Linked DNA regions of Homo sapiens: region 2 is linked to region 1. A link means that fine-mapping ties the variant in region 1 to the expression of a gene that starts in the linked region. Tissue or cell type: subcutaneous fat. Region 1 holds a variant in brackets; the other region holds the start of a gene. All regions are shown on one strand. Distances are from middle to middle.

What was found. PIP is the estimated chance that this variant, and not a neighbour inherited with it, causes the effect.
Region 2: PLPP2 starts here. The variant in region 1 is fine-mapped to the expression of PLPP2 in subcutaneous fat (GTEx, PIP above 0.99).

Annotation. Positions count from the first base shown.
Region 1 is chr19:326,454-329,289 of GRCh38, forward strand. It overlaps MIER2 (MIER family member 2), which reads right to left. Exons shown (of 14, transcript NM_017550.3): 4 at 1,411-1,536; 5 at 680-803; 6 at 54-145. Among named protein-coding and RNA genes, the nearest start is that of MIER2, 17 kb to the right of the region's middle. RefSeq lists an enhancer at 1,208-1,708 and a silencer at 1,722-1,922. The variant G/T (reference allele first, on the strand shown) is at 1,545.
Region 2 is chr19:290,308-292,807 of GRCh38, forward strand. It overlaps PLPP2 (phospholipid phosphatase 2), which reads right to left and starts at 1,096. Exons shown (of 6, transcript NM_003712.4): 1 at 978-1,096. The coding sequence starts at 1,029. RefSeq lists enhancers at 1-292, 1-262, 293-990.

The DNA of each region.
Region 1 (2,836 bases):
ACGGCAGAACCACGGCCGGGATGCCAGGTTGGGGAGATGGCAGAACCACGTACCTTCTTACATTTGTTGGCAGGAAGAGAGTCCTCCTCGGTGTCGGAGGAGGCAGAAGAGCCAGGCTCTCTGTCTTCATCAGCCAGGAAACGAGCTTTGGGAAAACAGAGGCAGGTCCCCCAGGGTCTCCACTGCCTGCAGCCTATACAACCCCTTCTCTCCACTCCCATTCTCCATCCACCTGATCCCCAGGCCATAACCCTCTCTCTGGCCAGACATTGGGTAAACAGATGGGCACAGGACCCAGGACCAGGGATGCACCTTTGAAGAAAGAGGCCTTCCCTTCTATGCAGCTGCTGCACCTCTGGGCCCCGAGCCCTCAGTTCCCAGGAAAGCCAGCACAGAGGCTTGTGAAGGAGGCCGGTTCTGGGAATGCTGTCCCTGGATCTGCTAGGGGAACCAACATGTTCCCTACTTGTTTAAACCAAATCGCTCTGAGAGTCCAGGCTCACTGGCCAGCGTGGAGGAGAACAAAGCACCCCCAGGGCTACTGACGCTTCCCGCCAGGCAGACGCCCTCATCTGTGATGAGTTCTTGGCCTGCATCAGCCCAAGGACCCTTCATCAAGCATCACGACTGCCTGGCAGGGGGCCTGGCTGCGGTGGAGTATGGGGACAGAGTCACCTACATCCACTCCGGTTAGGGAAGAGGTCGGAGGCCTCGTGGGAGGTCACGGACGGGGTGAGGTCGTCAGCAGATGATTGCGTCTCTTCCTCTTCTTCCCCTGAAAGCAAATCCTTCGCTATTTGTTCCTTTAAAAAAAAAAAAAAAAGTAAAGAACATTTTACAGTTTAACAATCTCGCAATACCACTAATGATAACAACAGTAAAGACACTGGGAGTGCCCTGAGGCTCACATGGGGCTGCTATTCCCATTCTGCAAAGGGTGCACAGCGTGGGGGGAGCGGGGATGGGAAGGAGACACGTGGGAGCCCACACCCAGCCACCAGAGCTGGAGACAGTTAGAGCTGCCACTGGGCACACGCCCGGAGTGCATGGCTCTTTCTCTGACTGTGCATTTGGTTTTAACCTTCTACAATGCAGCCCGCCCCTGCTCCCAACACCCAAGCCTTGACCTGTGACCTCTGGGTACGGAATGGCAGAGAGACCAGTCCTGGGGAGGCCCCGATGTGCCCCTCCACCCACCAAAGCCAGAATGACATGTGGCCTGGGGTTAAGGCTAGGGTCCAGCCCCATGCCCATGGCCATTCCAACCCCAGGGTAGTGGTCACAGGTACATTCTACTTATTCTGGGGGCCTTTGTGCCTCCTCTCACTGAACACTCCCCTCTGCAGAGAGGCAGCGCCAGGCCCCCCCACCTTCAGCTGTGAGCCAGTTCCAGGAAGGGCCCTCACTTACTTTGTCCAGGGTCATGTCTGGGAGGTTCGGGGCCACGTCACCACCCTCACTCTCCCGGTCTGAAATGGGGTCTGACGCCTCGTAGCCATAGAGCGCAAGCAGCTCATCAAAGGGCATGTCGTTGCTCTGAGTTG[G/T]GGAAGGGAACAAGGCCCCATCAGGAGGGACGGCTCTGGGGGTTCCTGTCCCTGTCCTCTTGCCTGAGCCTCACTGGCCACAACCAGGGCCACTCTGTCACACCCATAGCAACTCCCCACATGGCAGCACTCCCCAGCCAGACCTCAGGCCCAGTCCTTCATCCAAGAGCTCCTTTACAATCCCTCAGAGGCACCAGAGCCTAGGGGTCACCGGCCAGGGAAGAGGGCACCACCCTGCCCACAATGCCTCCTTGCACAGGGTGAATTACAGGAATACAAGGATGGTGTGACACAGGGTGAATTACAGGAATACAAGGATGGTGCGACACCTGGCAATTTACTATTGTAACTCAACATCAATATATTAAAGGGGAAAAAAGTTATCTGAAAAAGGCATTTGGTAAAATCCGACATCTATTCCTGATTTGAAAAAAAAAAAAAAGGAACTCTCAGAAAACTACATAAACAGGCCAGACACAGTAGTTCACACCTGTAATCCCAGCATTTTGGAAGGCTACAGCAGGCAGATCACTTGAGGCCAGGAGTTCGAGACCAGCCTGGGCAACATGGCGAAATCCCGTCTCCACTAAAAATACAAAAATTAGCTGTGCTTGGTGGCATCCACCTGTAGTCTCAGCTACTCAAGAGGCTGAAGCACGAGAATCACTTGTACTCGGGAGATGGAGGTTGCAGTGAGCCAAGATCACACCACTGCACTCCAGCCTGGGTGGCAGAGTGAGAATCTGTCTCAAAATAAAAAAAAAGAAGAAAACTATGTAAACGGATGCTTCATCAATATAATGGAGAAGCTGTCAATTCACACTCAGTCAAAAATGGGTAACCAGAGCAGCCCCCATCACGATCTGGAACAAGAGCACTGTGATTAACGAACACTGTTTTGATGCTCTGAGCCAATGTAATATGACAAGAAGTATAAATAAGGCACGTAATTCCTGGGAAGGAAGAGATGCGAACTATCAACATCATGCTCTCCAGTGCTGCTTTCAAATCCTTCTGTCCTCCCTTGTGTGAGCCTCTATTCCACAGAGGCTAGTCCTGTCTGCTCAGACTCCACGCTGATCCCTGTGGGTCACTTTCAGCTTCCAACTTCCGGAACACTCCCTCTCATTCTCTCAAGATGTTAGCACTGGCCTCCCCTCCACCCCAGCTCCTGCCCAGACTCAACCTGGGGGCTTCAAGTCCACATAGAAACCTCCCAGCCTAGTCCCAGCCCTTCTCCAGGTGGAATATCTACACTGAGTCCCCCTTTTGTTCTCTCACAGGACCCCGTG
Region 2 (2,500 bases), 36 kb before region 1:
TTTGTTATTTGCATGTTGCTTAGTTCCTGGCATACAGAAAGTGCCACCTAAATGTTTACATAAATAACACCATAGGTGCTCAGGAAATGGTACCACGGGCTGGCAGACACCCACAGGGACTTCTTGCTGTCACCTGGCCCACCCTAAAAAAGGGTCTCCTTCCGGAGGTAAGAGGACTTGGCCTCTGCTGTGAGATGGCAGAGAAGCAGGAAACACGTTGGGGAGGAGGGCACCCCCCAGAGATAGAATTCCAGGGCCATTGTCTGTGCAGCCACAGAGCAAACACTCGGCCTTTGTTCCCGGGACCCTGCGGGAGGGGGGCCTCGGGATGCCCATTCCGCCAGTGTGGCCCGCAAACCCGCCGGACAGGTTTGGTTCTCCTGGCCTCCCGGCCCCCCGCCACCCCGTTCACCCGAAGCCTGGGACCCAGCCTTCATCCCCAGTGTCTCCCCCGCCCGAGCCAGCAGGGCGGCTGGGCCTCCCCGCACGTGCACGGGTTCGAATCCCGCCGACGCACCGGGTGCCAGGACCGAGGGTCAGCCCTCTCCGCGCGCAGCGGGAGCGCCCACCCCAGGGGCGGAGGCGCGGACGTCCTGCCGGGGTAACCCGCGGCCGCCCCCACCTCCCGGGCCCGCGTGACTCACCTCCCAGGCCAGGCGGGGCGGGATGGAGGCGCGCGCGCGGCCCCTCCGCACAGACTTCCTGCTGCCGGGGCGGGGGATGCTGGCCCCGGCTCCCCGGGCCTCTCGCGACCCCCATCCCCCTGGGCCTGGGACGCGGGGACCCCCGAGCCTGGGAGGGCGCGCGCAGTGCGGGGCGCGGAGGGAGGTCTGGTCCTCACGCGAGGTCCCCGCCTCCAGGGTCCTCGGAGGGACGAGGGCGCGCAGCCTCCGCGTTCCCCTGCAAACTTGCGCGCAGCCGGGGGCGTGTCCGTCCCGGGAGGGTCCCCCCAACACCCGGGTCCCCAAGGCTCTTACCGACCAGTAAGCACAGCACGTCGAGCAGCACGAAGACCCACCTCCGCTGCATGGTCCCCGCGACCCCCGACGCCGGTCCCAGCGCGTCCCGTCGCGTCCCGGCCCGGCCGCGGAGTCACGTGGCGCGGAGCCCGCCCCGCGCGGAGAGGAGGGGAGGGGCGGGAAGGGGAGGAGGGGAGGGGCGGGGAGGGCACGAGGGGAGAGGTGAGGAGGGGAGGGGAGGGGAGGAGGGAGGGTTAGGGGCGGGGAGGGGAGGAGGGAGGGGGAGGGGAGGAGGGGAGGGCTAGGGGCGGGGAGGGGAGGGGGGAGGGGGAGGGAAGGGAAGAAGGGGGGGAGGGGAGGAGGGAGGGGGGACGGCAGCGGCGGGCAGGGGAGCAGCGGGGGGGGCGGGGCGCGGCGGACCCGGGACCGCGCGGACTCTGCCCCCGCCTGGCCGCGGCGCCCAAAAGAGCGGGTGGGGCGAGCGTGCGGGCGCCACGGGGACCTCGTCCGCCCGGAGTCCCGGCCCTGACCCGGGCTGTGCGGGTCTCCGAGCGGCGTGAGGTCCTCAGAGGCTGGAGGTTCCCCGCGGGTCGGGCCGGCGGAGCCCCGGGCGGGGACGTGGAGAAGGAGGACGAGCAGCGGCGGGACCGGCCCCGCGGGACGGTTCCCGACTTTCCTCCTCAGGGAGTGGCAGCCGCGCCGTGTGCGCCTGGAAACTCCGACAGCAGGAGGCACCTTAAAGTGGAAGGGGCGACGTGGCTTCATTTCAGGAGTTTCTTTTCTCCTAATACTCAAAATCCTGGCGCGTCCTTGGACCCCTGGCACGTTAGAAGCTCGAGTTCCTCGGCACCCACCTTGCGACGGCGTAGGGTGTCCAGGCGCAGCCCTGTGCCCAGGCACCGTTCCTATCAGCGCACTTGCTGTCCCATTTCACAGAAGAGCACGGGGGCGCCAGGAGCTGGGAACCCCATGAAATGGCGCCGGGGTCTGTGCCCCCACCAGGTCGTGGGGAGCCCTGAGCTGAGGGTGCCTGGGGATTGAGGGCACCTGAGCCAGGGAAACCCAGGCCCAAGGGACCCACACTGGGTCCTTTCGGCTGGGACCATCCGGGAGGCCTCAGGAGTGTCAGACCCACGTTTCCGGAGTCCAGCCTTGACCTCTGCCACTCACGGTCACTTAAATGGGAAGTGGCAGGCCTGGGGTCAGAAACAAGGCTGCTGGGCCCCAGATCCGCTGCCACCCTGACCCTCCTCTAAAACCCGTTCAGCACCACCATCAGCCCCCTGCCCCAGCAACACCAAAACAGGGTGCGTCTCAGCAACTGGACTTCAACTGGGAGCTCCTCGACCCTGCTTCCCGGATGGTCAGACACCTGCACGTGGGGCAGGGGGGCATCATGAGGGAACTCCAAGGGCAAGGGGCTCTTGGGAGACAGCAAAGGCACCCAGAGTGGTGCTGGGTGGGAAGACGGTGCAAGCTGACCTGTGGCCCTCCAAGGGCAGGGTTGAGGTGCTCCCTTGCTGCACTCACGGTGGGGTGGG